2 linked regions of the Homo sapiens genome follow. The protein of the gene in region 1 interacts with the protein of each later gene in a pairwise test. Each region holds a gene or a part of one and is shown on either strand. Other genes may lie near its edges. The genes, in order: FRMD8 and KCNH2.

What was found.
Region 2: the proteins of FRMD8 (region 1) and KCNH2 interact in binary tests that used the Homo sapiens proteins (3 or more experiments, as listed by UniProt).

What each region holds. Positions count from the first base shown.
Region 1 is NC_000011.10:65,381,127-65,390,264, forward strand, and holds the start of FRMD8 (FERM domain-containing protein 8), read left to right. Parts: upstream 1-5,510; 5' UTR 5,511-5,635; intron 5,636-5,910; coding exon 5,911-5,995; intron 5,996-8,234; coding exon 8,235-8,402; intron 8,403-9,138. Other genes in the region: SLC25A45 (solute carrier family 25 member 45), read right to left, coding at 789-825. UniProt on the Homo sapiens protein: Promotes the cell surface stability of iRhom1/RHBDF1 and iRhom2/RHBDF2 and prevents their degradation via the endolysosomal pathway. By acting on iRhoms, involved in ADAM17-mediated shedding of TNF, amphiregulin/AREG, HBEGF and TGFA from the cell surface.
Region 2 is NC_000007.14:150,967,542-150,975,795, reverse strand, and holds part of KCNH2 (voltage-gated inwardly rectifying potassium channel KCNH2), read left to right. Parts: intron 1-320; exon of another isoform or gene 321-478; intron 479-754; exon of another isoform or gene 755-771; intron 772-854; coding exon 855-1,085; intron 1,086-1,289; exon of another isoform or gene 1,290-1,419; coding exon of another isoform or gene 1,420-1,426; intron 1,427-8,254.

The sequences.
Region 1 (9,138 bases):
GAACCCAGACTTTTTTTTTTTGACACAGGGTCTTGCTGGTGTTGTCCAGGCTGGAGTGCAGTGGCATGATCATGGCTCATTGCAGCTTCAACCTCCTGAGCTTAAGGGCTCCTTCCACCTCAGCCTCTGGAGTAGTTGGGACCACAGGCGTGCGCCACCGCGCCTGGCTAATTTTTGTATTTTTAGTAGAGACGGGGTTTCACCATGTTGGCCAGCCTGGTCTCGAAATCTTGACCTCATGATCCACCTACCTCAGCCTCCCAAAGTGCTGGGCTTACAGGCATGAGCCACCGCGCCCAGCCTCTCATTTCTTATAAAGACAGGGTCTTCCTATGTTGCCCAGGCTGGTCTCAAACTCCTGGCCCCAAGTGATCCTCCTACCTCAGCCTCGCAAAGTGCTGGGATTACAGGTGTGAGCCACCATGCCCTGATTCTTTTTTTTTTTTTTTTTTTTTTTTTGTGGCAGGGTCTCATTCTGTCACCCAGGCTGGAGTGCAGTGGTGCAGTCATAGCTCACTGCAGCCTTGAACTCCTGAGCTCAAGCAATCCTCCTAAGTAGCTGGGACTACAGGTGTGAGCCACCATGCCCAGCTAATTATTTTGATTTTTTTGTAGAGACAGGGGCCTCCCTATGTTGCCCAGACTGGTCTCAAACTCCTGGGCTCAAGTGATCCTCCCGCCAGGCCGGAACTCAGACTTTGGTCTCTGCTCCTCCCATGTCACCCATCTTCCCGAGGAAGTGACCTACCATTGGGTGTGATGTGACAGAAGGAAGAAAAATGTCTCACCAGAGATCCAGCCAGCCACAAATTCCTCCACCGGCATTGTCTGGGCTTGCGGGAACTGGTGGCTCCAGCAGAGGAGACAGAGTTGAATTCCCCCCTCTCCCTCCCCTGGCCCACGCTGATAACCTCCCACTAATGTTTAACCCTGGCGGGAAGGTGAGAATTGGCCTGGTGCCCAGACCTCCGGCAACTGGCAGAGGAGAGCGAGCCAGTTCCGGTGACCCTGGCCACCTGGAGGAGTCGTGCAGAGTACAGTCTCACGGGCCAGGCGTGCCGGGACCACAGAGGCCCTGATCCCCGAGCCCGGCCAATGATCCTCGCTCTGAGGATGGCAACTGGGTTCCTGCCCCATGGTCGGGCCCCTCCAGGGCTGCCTTAGTCAGCAAGAGGCAAGCCCCTGCCTGCCCAGCCAGCCCAGCTCCACTCCCATTCATCTCCACCAAGGGGCATGGCCGCCCCCATGCCACAGAGAGAGGCCGGGTGCGGAGGTAGCGTGGCCACCAGGGGGTAGGCCCAGCCCGCATTTGCCGCTGCGTGGCAGGGTGGGGAGGAGCCACTCCCAGGAGTGACTCACCAGGCCTGGCTGTTCTCTTCAGGGTTGTTTACGACTCCCCCGACTCCCCCGTGTGAGTCAGAAACACAGCCTTCCTCGGCTTCCTCCTTCCCAGGGGAAAGATAGGGGTTTTGATTATTTAAAGTGCGTGTTGATCTGCAATGGCACCATTCTGCTCAGTCAAAACCAAAACCCTTTCAAGGATCTGTGAGCCACAGGGTGCCGCCCATTCTCCTCTGACCTCACGTCCTGCCACCCACCCCCTTGCTTTCTCTGCTGCAGCCACCCGAGCCTCCAGACTCTTCTTCAGTCAGCCTTCTGTCTCCAGGCCTGTGGACTGGCTCTTCCCTCTTCCTGGGCACTCTTGCCCTGGCACCCCTCCAGCTGGGGCTCAAATGTCACCACCTGGGTGAGGTCTGCCCCGCCTCCCCAGCCGGAGGCACTGCTGGCTCTTCCTCTCTTTCTCCATCACAGTTATCACGCCAACATACGATGGGAAGAACTTGTCTGTCTGGACAGGGATCTCTGGGTGTTCTGTGCACAGCGGGTGGCACAGGGTGGGCTCTCAATAAATCCTGAGTGACTGAATGAACGGAAATGTCAGCCAGCAGCATCAGCGGCAGCCTGGGGCTCCAGTTCCCTCTTCCCATCACCAAACGGCCCTGGGAAACATCAAGGCCCAGTGACACCTGCACCCTCCCCTCCAGATCTCCCCGCAGCTCCTAGTCTCCCATGGGGGACGCCCAAGGCCCAGTCCTTCTCTCCCTTCTCCTCTCACTGTGGCCAAGGCAGAACCCACCCACCCCTGCTGCTTTCTCCCGGGTGGACAGATTCGGGAAACAGGACCTCCTACCTCCTGCCTCTGGAGCTGCCTGGGGCTCCTTGGGCCACCCCCAAAGATCATCCTAAAAGACCATCCCCAAAGACTGGCCTCTCGTGGTGGCTTGGGCTGCAGTCCTGGTTCTGCTTCTTATTCCTGAAACTGCCTTTGCAAAAACTATAACTGATACAGGCCAGGCGCAGTGGCTCACGCCTGTAATCCCAGCACTTTGGGAGGCCGAGGCGGAAGGACCACCTGAGGTCAGGAGTTCGAGACCAGCCTGACCAACATAGTGAAACCCCATCTCTACCAAAAATACAAAAATTAGCCGGGTGTGATGACGGGCGCCTGTAGTCCCAGCTACTTGGGATGCTGAGGCAGGAGAATCGCTTGAACCCGAGAGGCAGCTGTTGCAGTGAGCCAAGATCATGCCACTATACTCCAGCCTGGGCAACAGAGCGAGACTCCGTCTCAAAAAAAAAAAACAAACAAACAAACAAAAAAAAAACCCTCCTGTCTCTCGTACAGCCAGCTCTGCATGAATTAAACTCTCCTTATTGCAATTCCCCTGTCTTGACAAATTGGCTCTGTCTAGGCAGAGGGTAAGGTGAACCCAATGGGCGGTTACATTATCTCTCTCAGTGATGTTGAGCAACCTCTTCTGTGGGCCTTGGGGTCTATTATTGTTTGCCAAAGTAGGACAGCAGTCGGGCTAATTGATGTCTAAGCCTCTCAGCTCTAAAGGCTGGAGGCCGCCTCCTCCCTCACTTCAGAATGGGTCTCATTCTCTTTTCCAATCTCACCGCCTCACCCCAGTTTGAGAAAGACCCTCATTCCCACTTCCCTACAGCCTTGCTGAAGGGAAGCCCACCTAAGCATGGCGTCATCTTGTGAATCTCTAGCTCACAACCTCCAAAATGTTCTTACTGTCTAACACGCCTGCCCCATATCTGTCATCCTGGGGTTCAAGGCCTCCCCCATGGTGCCACCCACCTGCTATGCTCTCACACAGCGGGGGTCTTTCCTGGGGTCCTAACCATGCTCGTGCAGTTCCCACTACCTGGAATGCCTTTCCTTCCCCACCATCAGCCTCCCGGACTCTCTCCCAGTGCCCCTCCTTGACTAGACCCGGGTTCTAGCCTCCCCACCACCACCGCAGACACTCCCAGGTGTCAGTCTTTGACATAAAACAGAGATGTGATACTCACCTCTTAGTGAGTTCTAAGGATTAAAGCACTTTAAAAAGTGGCTGGCACGTAAATGGCAACTGCTAATACTTATTTCCACTCTCAGGACGCATGAGAATGACACAGGAAACAGGGGAAAGGGCCTGGCCCAGTGCCCCACACACAGCAAGTGAGCAGAGACTTTTCCTGCCTGTAGCATTTCATAGTTCTTAAGGCAATGCTGTCATCTTCTGTGGTTTTATTTATTTTTTTGGAGACAGAGTCTCACTGTTGTCCAGGCTGGAATACAGTGGCAGGATGGCGCTATCAGAGCTCACTGTGAGCTCACACTCCTGGGCTCCAGCGATCCTCCCACCTCAGGCTCCTGAATGGCTAGGACCACAGATGTGTGCCACCACACCTGGCTAATTTTTGGGTTTTTTACAGATGGCGTCTCACTATGTTCCCCAGGCTGGTCTTGAACTCCTGGCCTCAGGCGATCCTCCTGCCTCGGCCTCCCAAAGTGCTGTGGTTTTAAATGTGCTGTTCTCCTGGGCTTCTTTCTCTTTCCCCTCTTCCTTAACTCACCAATTAAACCACAACAGACACTTTCTGAGGGCAGGGCCACGTCTCCCCTCAGTCTCCATCCCCTGACCTAGCACAAGCCCCGCATCCAGTAAGCATTCAAAACAACACTGAACTCTTCTGCTCCTGCTTCACTCCAGCTGGGTCAAGAGGCCATGGAGATACAGTGTGTCCTGGTCTGAGGGTCCCAGAGCTGAGAACCAGGAAGGAGATGCCTGCCCCCACTGGACACCCTTCCCTGCAGCCCACATCTGAGCTTCCTCAAGTCCTTAAGTCACATTGGCAAGGCAAATGTGATGTCATGGGCTCAGCTGTGGGGCAGTGTGGATCATAGGAGGGCAGGCAGAGCTGGTTCACATACCAAAGAAGGCTGGACTGGGTCAGGAGCTAGAGCTGCTTTCCAATCCCAGGGAACCAGGGCAAAGTGAACCCACTGCCCTCTGTTCCTGATCACCAAGCCCACTGCTGTCACTTGGGACAACTTCTGGTTCCTCTGGCCCCAGAAGGTGCCCCATGGACTTATTTTTCTCCCTGAGTTCCACATCTCAGATGCACACATGTTGCATTACCAGGACATGTCAGTGACATGGCCCTGAGGGTAGGTGGTTTCACACCTGCCTCTTTGGGGCCCCAAGTCTCCTCCCAGCCTGGGAAAACCTCAAGGTCTCCCAGGCTGTTGTGTAAGATAGTAAGGGCTCATGTCACTGCTCCCTGGAAAAACAGAGTGTCTGTCCTGGTTTTCTGATTTAGACATATATATATAAATTTTTTTTTTTTTTCAGACGGAGTCTCGCCGTCGCCCAGGCTAGAGTGCAGTGGTGTGATCTCGGCTCACTGCAGGCTCCGCCCCCTGGGGTTCACACCATTCTCCTGCCTCAGCCTTCCCGCGTAGCTGGGACTACAGGCGCCCGCCACCTCGCCCGGCTAATTTTTTGTATTTTTAGTAGAGACGGGGTTTCATCGTGTTAGCCAGGATGGTCTGGATCTCCTGACCTCGTGATCCGCCCGCCTCGGCCTCCCAAAGTGCTGGGATTACAGGCGTGAGCCACCGCGCCCGGCCGACATAGACATATATTAATAATCATTTAGAGAGTAGGGATAGTCCTTGGGGGTCATTCAGTTCAACCACCTCATTTTACAGATGAGGAAAACTGAGGCCCAGAGGAGAAGGGACTTGTCCAGGATGAGTCTGGGCCAGGACTCATTCTCCTGACCACTGCCGAGAGCGCCACGGTACAGGCCGCTGCCAGCGCCGCATGGATCCCTGGCACGTGCCAGGAAGTGTCCATTTCACAGGCAGGGAACTAGCCCGAAGACCCAGCGTGGGCAGGCCAACGCCCCTAGCCTGATTCTCGAATCTTCGCCAAACCCTCTTACAGGCCAACAGTCGGGGCCTTTGTGAAGGGAAACTCGCTCTGGGTCACTCTGGTGGTGGCGGGGCTGGTACGTGACGCGGCCACCCCACGGGCGTGATGAGACACGCGAGGCTGGCGTCCGGGCATGCGCGGGCCGCGCGGGGCGGCCCTGGGCTCCCATTGGCTCCCCCGGGTCGAAGGGGGCGGGGCCTCGGGCGCCGCGCTTCCTCCCGCCGTGGCTTCCGCGTCGCTTCCCGGTCAGCTGCGTCCTTAGCGGGAGCCCGAGTGCGGGCGGTGGCGGGCTTGGCGGCGGGGCAGGATTCCAGGCAGGAGCCTTGCCTCTCAGGTGGCGGGCTCTGCGACCCTGCGAGGTGAGAGCACAGCGACGTCTGGCCCGGGCCTCCGTCCCCGGCTGGGCGTGCGCCTTGCCCTGCCTGGGCATCCAGGTCGACCCCCGGTTCTTGACCGTAGCAACCCGCACCCCTCCCACCAGCGCCCGGTCTGCACTCTTGGCCCCTCCAGGCAGCGCCGCTCAACCTTGCGGACCCAGCCTGGGATCCCTTACCGTACTCACCGAGAGCTTGAGGAGACCTCCAGCCCCCCATCCCTGGCTCCCGGTAACTGCTGTTTCTCTTTGCCTTTGCAGATGGACGGGACAGAAGGCAGTGCCGGGCAGCCCGGCCCCGCTGAGCGATCCCACCGAAGCAGCGTGTCCTCCGTGGGAGCCCGAGGTGGGTCCCACCCGCATCTCCTCTTCCACACCCTCCTGGGACCCCAGCCCTGGAGAAGTAGCTCTGGCTTGTCTTCTTTTTCATTAAAGATAATTTATGTATCGACTAAGAAATAATAAGGTACATTCAGATGTGGAAAACTCACAGAAGTCAGAGGCTCTGTCACTAGTTTACTGGCCAGGTTGGGTCCTCGCTCTCATTTGTAAAATGAGCTTGTTTAACATAGCTGTGAAATTCAAATGAGATTATATGAATGAAAAGTGAAGGCTGATGTGGTTCATGCTTGTAATCCCAGAACTTTGGGAGGCCAAGGTGGGCAGACCACATGTGCCCAGGAGTTCGAGACCAGCCTGGGCAACATAGACAAAAAAGAAAGTGACACGTTCACTTTCTTTGTGTCATTTCTTTTTTTCTTTCTTTCCTTTCTTTCTTTCTTTGACAGAGTCTCCCTCTGTCGCCCAGGCTGGAGTGCAGTGGTGCGATCTCAGCTCACTGCAAGCCCCGCCTTCGGGGTTCACGCCATTCTCCTGCCTCAGCCTCCCGAGTAGCTAGGACTACAGGCGCCCGCCACCACGCCTGGCTAATTTTTTGCATTTTTAGTAGAGACGGGGTTTCATCGTGTTAGCCAGGATGGTCTCGATCTCCTGACCTCGTGATCTGCCTGCCTCAGCCTCTCAAAGTGCTGGGATTACAGGCGTGAGCCACCACACCCGGCTGTGTCCTTTCTTTCTCCCAAACAGCCTTTTGAAAGCAGGGATCAGGCTGGGCGTAGTAGCTCACACCTGTAATCCCAGCACTTTGGGAGGCCGAGGCGGGTGGATCACTTGAAGTTGAGAATTCCAAGAGCAGCCTGACCAACATGGAGAAACCCCTGTCTCTACTAAAAATGCAAATTAGCTGGGCGTGGTGGCACATGCCTGTAATCCCAGCTACTCAGGAGGCTGAGGCAGGAGAATGACTTGAACCTGAGAGGCGGAGGTTGCGGTGAGCTGAGCTCGCACCATTGCACTCCAGCCTGGGCAACGAGGGTGAAACTCCGTCTCAAAAAAAAAAAAAAACAGGGATCATATCATGATCTTCATTTGATAGGGAGGAAACTGGGCCCTAGGGAGGTTAAGTCCCAGGCAGGCTGTGGAAGCTCTCCAGGTGATTACATACTGCAGCTTCTGGTGCCTCAGTTCTTGCCTGAGAAGTAGATCTGAACCTGAGCCTCCTCGAAGTGATTTTGTGATCTCTGAGAGTAGCTGCTGGAGCATAACAGACTGGGGGTCCGAGGAGCACCTTCTCTTGTGTAGATGAGAAACCGTGCCCTTCCCTTCCACACACTCTTGGAGGGAGGAGTATTAGCTCTACTTTTACAGATGAGGCAACTGACAACTTAAATTGACTCCCTGAAGTTGGCCAGCGACCAGGCAAGGATGGGAACCCGAGTATGTCGGCCCCAAACTCCAGTGTTCCTTCACCATGCCTGCAGTCTCAGGGATGGGGATTTGAATCTGGTTGCTCTTCCAGGTGTCTCCATTTGGCTCTGGAACCCACAAGTTGTCACAAGGGAACTCTCAGCTATTTGGGCTGTTCTTCCCTAGCCTGCTTCGTATTGACTCCTGAGGCTTAAAGAGTCCTCAGACTTAAAGAGTCCCAAGGAAGCTGAGACCTGGAACTTGCTTTAACCTGGGTGACCTAAAGAATTATCTCTTCGCATCTTAGCCTCAGTCAGAGAGAGACTTGCCTAAGGACAGCAGCGGGTTACCAGCTCTCGCTCCTGCCAGCCAGCCAGACTAACTGCCATAGCCTCAGGATGGTTTCAGCCTCTCTATGCTGTGGTTTCAGCCTCTCTGTGCTGTAGTTTCACATCTGTGGCATGTTCTTGTTCAGGGCAGAAGAACAGTTGAATCCTTGGGGCAGCTATGGTGGTGAGGGGCAGGTTTGCAATGGCCAGGCTTAATTTGAATCTTGGGGGATTGCGGTGGGGCTGGTCTCTGGGCAGGAGTTACTGGGTTTCTGGGTGGTTTAAGGGTGTCAAGGAAGCACTAATAGATAGCATTCGTGATAGGGTCTTTTGGGGCTGCTGGGGCTCTGCCTCTGGCGAGGACTCTGTCTCAGGAGCGTAGCCCTGGTCACCCCTGAGGGGTGTAGGGTGGGGGCTCCAGCCCCAGTGGGTGGTAGAGGGTGCCTGGTTGGCCTGGCCTGGCTGTGCCAGGCAGAGGCCTCAGCTGAGCCTGCCTGGTCTCCATCACAGCGGCTGACGTGCTGGTATACCTAGCGGATGACACGGTGGTGCCCCTGGCTGTGGAGAACCTGCCCTCGCTCAGTGCCCATGAGCTGCACCGCGCTGTCCGCGAGGTCCTGCAGCTTCCAGACATCGCCCTGGATGTCTTCGCGCTCTGGCTGGTCTCCCCTCTGCTGGGTAAGGCTTGGCAGTGAGGAGCCCAGGCTGGAGGGTTGGAAGGGCACTGACCAGTACAGGAGGGAGGGGGCAGTGTTTGGAGCCGCTGGGGAGCCGCTGGCCACTGCCCATGGGGAAAGGTGGGACTTGGGTTTATCCTGAGCTGTCCACCTGTCTGAGCACCTAGAGCCCTGAGAAGGCCCCCGCTCCTGGCCCTGCTGTCTGTCTTTCTGCTGGTGGTGGAGGAGTGGACACGCCTGCCCCCCAGGTCGTGCTGGGACTGGGTGGTCCAGGAACAGTACCGCAGGAGGGAGGGAGGAAGGGGGCCTTGTCTGCCGAGCATAACCTTTGCCACAACCTGGGTGGTGTTTGGGAACCATGATTTCACCTTGTCCTCAGGCCTAGGCCAGTCTTGCAGATGGAAGTTGTAGTTAGGGTGGCGAGACCACTGTGTGGCAGGAGCAAGACAGACCCAGGCCTGAGTGGCTTCCCGGTCGGCCTCTTTGAACTGTTCCTGTTCCTTGGGGACAGGGAGGAGAAGGGACATGGCTCAGGAAGTAGGCCCCTCTGACCCTGAGGCTCTTAGTGAGGGTGGGAAGAGTAGAGACTTGACTTCTCTGGGAGGGGGGTCTTCAGCCTCCAGCCCTGCCTGGCTGGCCTCGTGACCACCCACATCCTGCCCTTTCAAGCTGAAATTGCAAGATGGAGGGACTTAAGGGCGGTGGCTCTCTAGACACTCAGCCCAGGGTCCCTCAGT
Region 2 (8,254 bases), on another chromosome or scaffold:
TCCTATGACCTTGGGCTTCTGCCTGTGACCCTCAGCTTATTCTTCTGCCTCTGCCAGACCAAGGTTCAAAAGCTGGCTCTATCATTTACAAGCTGCAAGACTTGGGCATGGTGCCGAACTTCTCTGGAGCCTTGGTTTCTTCATCTATAAAAGGAGGATAATAACACCTACCTTATGGGGTTGTCAGAGGACCTAATGAGATGCAGCGTCCTTAGGTGTTCAACGTGTAACTTCCCTCATCCTCTCTGGCACACCCACCCCTCAGCTCCTGACTGCCCTTGGGGCGGGGGTGGTGTGCAGAAGTTCTAGGGGGTACTGACCTGGTAGGATCCTCAGATAATCGGGGAGTGATTTCCTAGGGAGCCTCAGGATAAGGAGTGGCTCAGGGAGCGCCCCCCAGTCTGGAGAGCAGGGAAATTAAAAGCAGAATCCAGAGAGCCGATGCAAAGGGAATCCTGGCCGCCATCTCTGGCCTTTCCCAGGCTCCCTTTCTAGGCCCAGTGTTTATCCCTCCGCCGCGGCTGCTGACACGCGTTGCTGACACCCGCCAGGCTGGCCTCAGCCTCGGGCATGGAGGAGGCGGCGGGCTGCTGGCGGCCTGCCCGGGGGAAGCCACGCAGCCCGCCCGCGGGCCAGGCGGAGGAGGGGGCGCGCCGCGCGGCCCGGCCGGCCAGGCACCTGTATCGGGGCACACGCACAGCTGCGTTCGCCCCCTGCTGGGACCCCAGTCCCAGCCATGCTTCCTGTGGCGGGGAGTCCCCGGGCGGCTGTGTGAGTGGAGAATGTGGGGAAGGGCTGGGAGTCCCGGAGGCTGGGGTCCCCGCTCACGCGCACTCTCCTCCCCGCCCCCCTAGGCCGTAAGTTCATCATCGCCAACGCTCGGGTGGAGAACTGCGCCGTCATCTACTGCAACGACGGCTTCTGCGAGCTGTGCGGCTACTCGCGGGCCGAGGTGATGCAGCGACCCTGCACCTGCGACTTCCTGCACGGGCCGCGCACGCAGCGCCGCGCTGCCGCGCAGATCGCGCAGGCACTGCTGGGCGCCGAGGAGCGCAAAGTGGAAATCGCCTTCTACCGGAAAGATGGTAGGAGCGGGCCGGGGCGGGGCCACGACCAGGGGCGGGGTCAAGAGGGGCGGGACCACGGCGAGGGGCAGGGTGCGTGGGGGTGTGGGGGTGTGGGGGCGGCTGGAGAACGCCCCGAGCCCGGGCAGGGTTCTGTGGGGGTGTGACGCGGGCGGGGGCCCTGCGGTGTGCCTGTGGGAGGCGCGGTTCCGGGGCCTGCGCCTCACTCTGCTGAGATGGTTTTCAGGAGGGCAAAGGAGTTGCTAGGCTGTGGGTCTGGCTCCTCTGGTCCTTTTTTTCCCTGGGCAGGTGTGGGCACGTAGAGCAAGTTGGACTAGAGTTAGACCGAGCTGGGATGGCAGGTACGTGCGTGGATGGAGGTTAAAGGTCAGATTGGCAGTTGTGCGCTGACATCCGGGCACAGGCCCCTATCTACCTTAGGGCAGTTGCTGCCAGGTGACAGGTCTGGGAGATGTCATGGAGGGACAGGAGGGCTGCAGGACTCTGGCTGTCTCTGCTGCCCCCCTCCTGCCCTGCGCTTCAGCAGCACCTGGGGGAGGTGCGTGCCTCTCCCCGCAACCTCAGTTCCCTTTGTCTCAGCTGTCGAGCGCCCCGCCCTGCCACCCTCTCCTGCGCCAGGTGTCTTTACTCAGCCACCGCCTCCCAGCACAGCTGCTCTGGGCTTCCGGAGAGCGGATAAACAGAGCCCGGGGTGGGGCTGCTCCCACACCGTGAATGCCCTGTTGGGGTGGGCTCTGGTCAGGGCGGGCAGAGCAGGAGGACTGGGGTCCTGTGGGCAGAATCCGGCTGCAGAGGCGGCTCTGGAACGCGTGCAAACCTTGCTGCTTCCTAGCGTGTGTCCCATAAGCATTGACTCAACCCTTGTGAGCCTGGCAGGCACTAGGCTCTTGGAGATGGGCAGGACAGATGAGGCTCCTGCCCTCAGGGAGCTTGTCTGCTGTAGACAGTGAGCACGCTCTGCTTTCTGTTTGGGACCAGGCCAGCCAGCCCCATGTGCCAGCCCTGTGTGCTCAGGGTTGGCTGGGGTGGCCCTGCAAAGCTTTGCATCCTCCAGGCTGTGCTTTTGCAGGCGTGCACAGTCTGTGGCATCACTGGACGGCACTAGAGGGGGCATGGTCCCTGCACCCTGTGGAAGAAGGTTCGCTCACAGCAAATCAGGGTTCTAACTGGCAGGAGGCAGGGGCTGTGAGACTAGACTCAAACCCTGAAGGCAGTGGATGGTTTCTAGGGGCTAGACACTGGGCCAAATGCTTTACTTCTCTTATCTCAGGCACTCTTCACAACCCAGGGAGGTAGACACTACTGTTGTCTTCATTTTGGGGGATGAAGAAACTGAAGTTCACACAGTCACACAGCTAGAAAATAGCAGTTGGGAACGGAGCCCACATCTGTCTGACCGGAGCCCTGTGCGCTCTGTTCTGTCTGTCATATATTGAAAATGACACCAGGTAGTTGCAGGTCTATCTGTATGCTGTACATTATCTCATGTGAAATTTTATTGTAAAAGTTTGCCAACCACAGGTGTACTGAAAAGAATATGAACCCATAAGTCCTGGGTTTGTGTCTAAGACAATGCTGGAAATTATACACTACTGGACAAGTTGGTTGACTTCCCTGGGCCTGTTTCTACTTCTGGGATAACGTGCCTTGCTTTGGACCTTCACAAGGGTGCTGAGCTTTCATAGAGAGTGCCTGCAACGGGCCGTGCTCTGTAAACACGGTGCCAGTCCCACTACGATGTAGCTGTGCTGGGGATTTGGCCTCTTGGCAGCAGCGGCTGAGGGCTCTTTCCTTTGGCTGTGGTATGTGTGGAGTGCTCTTAGGTGGAGCTGGCCCTCCCTCCCAGTCTAGGCTGGCCCCTTCTGGAGAGGATGGCTATGGGCCCCCTTCTGCAGAGGAGTTATTGTGGGATCACCTAATCCAACCCATTCGACTTGCAGGTGGAAGGACGGAGAAGCAGAGGTCTGATGACCAGTGAATCAGTGGAAGGAGTGGGATTAGAACCCAGATCCCCAGCCCAAGTTCAAACTTGTCCCCTCTCCAGGTTACAACTCCAAAAAATGGGGCTGTGACCCAGAAAACTCTGTGCCAGCAATCTCTGTCTGTCCCCTTCTTCACTCTCACCTAGTTTCCACGGGGCTCAGGTGTCTCCTGTTGGCCAACAGGCTGGCCTGGCACTCAGCCACCTAGGACCCCATGTATCCTGGCATTCTAGGCCTGGGGTGATGCAGACAGATTTCCTCAGCCTCCGCTTCTTCTGCCTTGAAACACTCAGTCCCTCCTGTGATCCCCGGGACCTGGCTTGGGCTGCGTGTGTGCGTGCCTGTGTGTGTACTCACACATGGGCCTGGTAGGGAGGCGGAGGTGAGGAATGCCTGCGCCACCCCTTGTTTCTGTCCAGGCCTTTCTCAGGGTCTCTGCCTGGGCCAGCCTCGGGTAGGGGGAGCTGGGCAGGAGGTGGAGCCTTCTGCTGGCAGGCGCCGCCGTGGACAGCTGTGCTGTGTTGGTGCCTCTAGCCTTGCTCTGCGCAGTGTCAGGGCCTGGAGCCAGACAGCCCCATTATTTAGTTGCTGGGACTGCTGGGAGGTGGGGAGGCTAGACTGGGGGAGTGTGGGCTGAAGGGAGAGACATGAGGTGCCTGGGGCTCACTGGCCCTGTGCCCCTTGAAGTCAGGCCCGGGATTCAGGTGGAATTGGGGGCAGAGTCCAGTGGTGTGAGGCTGGCTGGCGGTAACATCCCCGCAAGGCCCTGGGGAGGCACCCCGGGCAGCAGGTGCTGGCTGGGTCCACACCTGTGCTCCCACATCGCCATGGGGGCTGTGGCTCCTCCTCTGCCAGTCCTCACAGAGTCCCTTCTCTCTGTCCCCCTGCATCCTCTCTGCTCTTTGTTCCTGCCTCTGCTCCCTGCTTCCCTGCCACCGTGCTCAGCCAGCCTGACTGTGCCCACCTTCTCGGCTCCTCTCTCACTCCCCACATCTCCTTGCCTTTGTCTTCTGCCTGCCTGGCTTACTCTCTGTCCCTTGGTCTTTATCTCCTCTCTGGTGCCTCCTCCTGTCTTCTTCCCTCGCCTCAGCACCCCGGAACCTTGCTCCTTGCCTCTCTCCCTCTCTCCCATTGTCCCCCACCCCTCGGAGCCTCTATCTGGAAGGCTCTGTCTGGCTGCTCATACCTCTGACTGGCCTGGCCTGGCTCCATGTCCCTGTGTCCCCGGGAGCTTGTGCGTGGGTGGGGACGGTGGTGTCTCTGGAGAGGAGTCTATTAGCTTCTCCACTCCAGCTGCAGGCCAGTTGCCATGGTAACAGGGTCAGAGGGCCCCCCACTGCAACAGCTGATGCTGCGGCTGTTGGGAGGGGGTGGGGACCTGCTGTCCAGGCCTGCTCCCCAGTGCACTGTGCCCAGGGCCTCAGAGGTGGCCCCACGCCCAGTGGGCTTCGGTCTGTCCCCGGCCTTGGAACCCAGCCTCCCCAGTGCTCCTGCAGGCCTCAGACCTCAGACTGCCTTGAAATCCTTAGTACCTCCTGTGATCAGCCCCACTCCTCTGGGCCTCCTGCCCTTCTCCGTCCCCCAAGGCCGTCTGTCCTGTCTTCTTCCTTGCCTTCTTCATTTCTTCCTGTGCCCATTCCTTTAAATCAGACGCCCTGCTCTTGTCACCACCACGCCTCACCTTCTCCCTCATGGCTGACCCCTCCCCAGCTCAGACACCCACTTTCTGCTTCTTTTCAGCCCCCTGGGTCTGAGCTGAGGATGAAAGAAGCTTTTCCTTGAAGGGGAGCCTTGAGGCTGGGAAGGCAGGTGGGACAGGGATTGGTGTATAAGTGGGTTTTCTTGTCTTGAGATAGGAGGCAGACCAGAGCGATCCCAGAGGATGGGGCTTAGACACAGGAGAACTTTTCCTGTGGCACTGAAGCTATCAGGGGAGCGCCCTTCATCATGGGGACAGCGGTGTTCCTATCCTTCTGGTCAAGGCCTGGTGCAGCCTGGAGACAGGGCTGAGTGGGAGAATCTGCAGGGCTGCCAGGTGCGGGCGGGGGTCCATGGGGGCCCTGCTTCCGAGCCAGTTGCCTCTTGCCCTGCAGCACCTTCCCTCCACCTTTCCCTTCTCTAGCTGGATCAGAGGCCTGTTGGAGGGGCTCCACGGGGGTCATTCCTGAGCTGCGGCTGTCTGTCCTGGTCTGCCGGGGCTGCAGTCTTCCTATCCCAGTCCTGCTCCAGGGGTGAGGCAGGCATGACGCAACTGAAGGGTGCTATCTACTCCTTGACCCACCCTGGGGTCTGGAGAGCGTCGGGAGAGCGGCTTCTCCGTGTTGCGTCTTCTGCAGCCCCCGGAGAGGAGCTATGTAAATATTTGCGAAGAGCTGTCTGAGATGGGAGCAGAGTTTGATGGTGGCCTTGGGCTCTGGGGAGGGGGGCCATGGGGCAGCAGAAGGGCCAGCTTGGGGGTGTGTGAGGGGGGAGACTGGGCCTCTTTTCTCCCCAGAGGTGGCTTCCTGGGTGGGGTGATTTTGGAGGTTCCAAGAAAGCCCTTCACATGTTGGTATTTCCCTGAAGCGTTCCTGAAACTCCTCCCTTAGAGAACTTCTGCGTTTAGAGTGCTCCTTTTTCCTTAAAAACACGTTCTCTCTCATTGCCCCCTCCCAGTATAGAGACAGAAAGTATTTAGCCCTTTAGTGTGAGGGAGTTTAACAGAACTTCCCTCCCGACGTGGGCAGGAGGGCCATGGGAGTCAGGGTCAGTAGAAGAGGGAGGGGTGCTGGGACAGGTGATGAATGTGGGGTGCTCCCCTAAAGTCCCCTCCATGTCCTTAGTCTTGCCCATAAAGATCTCTATGCTGTGGCCTGTGGTTGGCCTCAGATAAACCCCTCTCCTTTTTGGGTGCTTATCCAGGATGAGAAACACCTTGGGAGCCAGGCAGCCTTGGTCCTCCGCCTCCTGCAGTACTGGAGGAGGTTCCCTGTCCCTCTCCCCGCCACCAGGCCTTGAGCTCCAGGTGGGTGGAGAGCAGCCCATCTGCTTTGTTCTCTGTTGTATCTGCGTGCTCAGTGCACAGCGAGAGCTCGGCACTGTTTGCTGAATGAATGAATGAATGGGGTGGGCAGTGTGCTGCGTTGCAGGAGCCTTCCCTGGGAGTCAGGTGACTTGGCAGGAGTTTCCAGCTTGGTTACAGACTTGCTGTGTCTGGGAGTCCTCTAGCCTTGCTTTGCGTGGACATTGTGGGGCACAGGAGCATCTGGGGGCTCCCAGCTTCACCCTCAGAGGTGGACCGAGGAGGATGGGGTGGGGGGACAGAGTCTTAGAGCTGCCACAGAGAGCACAGCTGAGGTGGGGGTGATGCCACCTGACCAGCAGCACAAGGCACTTCTATTGTTGTGACTGCACTTTGTAGTTTGCAAACTGGGGAACCATGCTTTACCGCAGGTGGTCCTCATGGCCCTGTGAAAGGCAGGATTCCTCTCCGTCACTTTATGGGAGGGAAGCTCTTGCTTAGAAAGGCTGAGGCACTTGCCCAAGTTTACCCAGCTGGCGGGTGGCCTGAGTGGGAACCCGAGCCTAGCTGTCCCCTCCCTGCCCAGCGTGGAATGCCACTGCACCAGCTCTCTTGCCCCCAGAGAGCCCTTCTGGGGCATGATGGGCTCAGGGCCTCAGGAAACTTGGATTTTAGCTGGGGTCTGCAAACCTCCATTCCTCGTTTGCTAAGTGGGATCATAGCGCCTGTCCCTGATGCACTTTGGGGTGTGAGGGTGTTCCTGGAATGAGATGACAGACACCCACAAAGCAGCGTGCGGTGCCAGAGCTCATTCTCCTCGCCATGAAGCAGGGCGTCACCTAAGTGGCTGCAGCTCCTAGCCCGTGCTGTTGCAATCGTGGGAAATGAGCCTGATCCGGGGCCTCAGCACCCCTGCTCCTATGGTGCACCCCGCCCCATCCTGCATGCTGCCTGCCTCTCCCCTTCCCTCCCTGCAGGCTGCTGCTGGCCCCGGGTCCTGCCTCTCCCCCAAATAATTGAAACCACAGCATTTGTGTTATTGCTTTTTCCTTTCTCTTTCATTTTTTTCCTTTTCCCTTTTATCTCACTCTCCAGTCTCATTACCCTCCCCATAGGCAACCGTTCAAATGTACTTACTGTGAATGTGTTGCTTGCATATGTTCTTGCAAATGTGTATTTTGTCTGGATATATGCATATAGATTTAATTTATGTAAATGATATTGTGCTATATGTTGTATTTTGGTGTTCGCTTTTCTTACTTGGGAATGTGCTTTAAGTCCAGCTGGGTTGCTGTTCGACATCTAGTCTGTAGGTGCGTATTCAGTGGCATGCGGCCGCCACGCTTCACCCACCCACTCTCCCGGGGAGGGACCCCACAATGTCTCCAACTCCCAGCCACTGTAAATGAGGCTGTAGTGAATATCCTTGGACATGGTCCCTTCTGGACTTGGGTGAGGATGTCTGTGGGATACACGCCCGGGAGTGGAATTGCTGGATCGCGGGACATGTGGACACTTAACTAAGTACTGCCATGCCTGTCATCACCCTCCTTCTCAGAGCTCGAGATTCCCATACCCGCATATCTTGGCCACTCTCGACATTATCTACCTTTCTAAATTTTGCCAATCTAATAGGTGACAGTGATTTCTTGTTGCTTTAATTTGCATTCCTTTGATTTCTGTTGAGTCTGAGCATCTCTTAGGCCTGGTAGCCTCTTGGGCTTACTTTCCCGTGAATTGCCTGCTCATGTCCTTTGCTCATTTTAATTTTGACGTCGCCGTCTTTTGTCCTTGTTGATTTGCAGGAGTTGCTTGTGTACTCTAGAGATACCAATGCATACTGTTAAACATTCAGTGTATTCCAGATTTTAATTCCTTGTTGAACTGGAAACAGATATTGCAAATATCTTCTCCCATTCAGTCTCTCTTCAATTTATCCAACAAAGATACTTAATTTTGATGCAAACAAATTCATTGATTTTTAGCTTTGTTTGTACTTTTGAAGTGTCTCAGGCTGCAGAGGGTCTCCATTTTCTTCTGTTCTCTTAATTGTTTTGCTGTTCTCAGTTAGGTCTATAATCTATCCTGAGACTACCCCGTATGTGGTGTCAAGTAGGGATCGAGTTTTATTTTTTCCATGTAATGTGCCAACTTTCCCAACGCATCTTGTAAACAGTCTGTTCTTT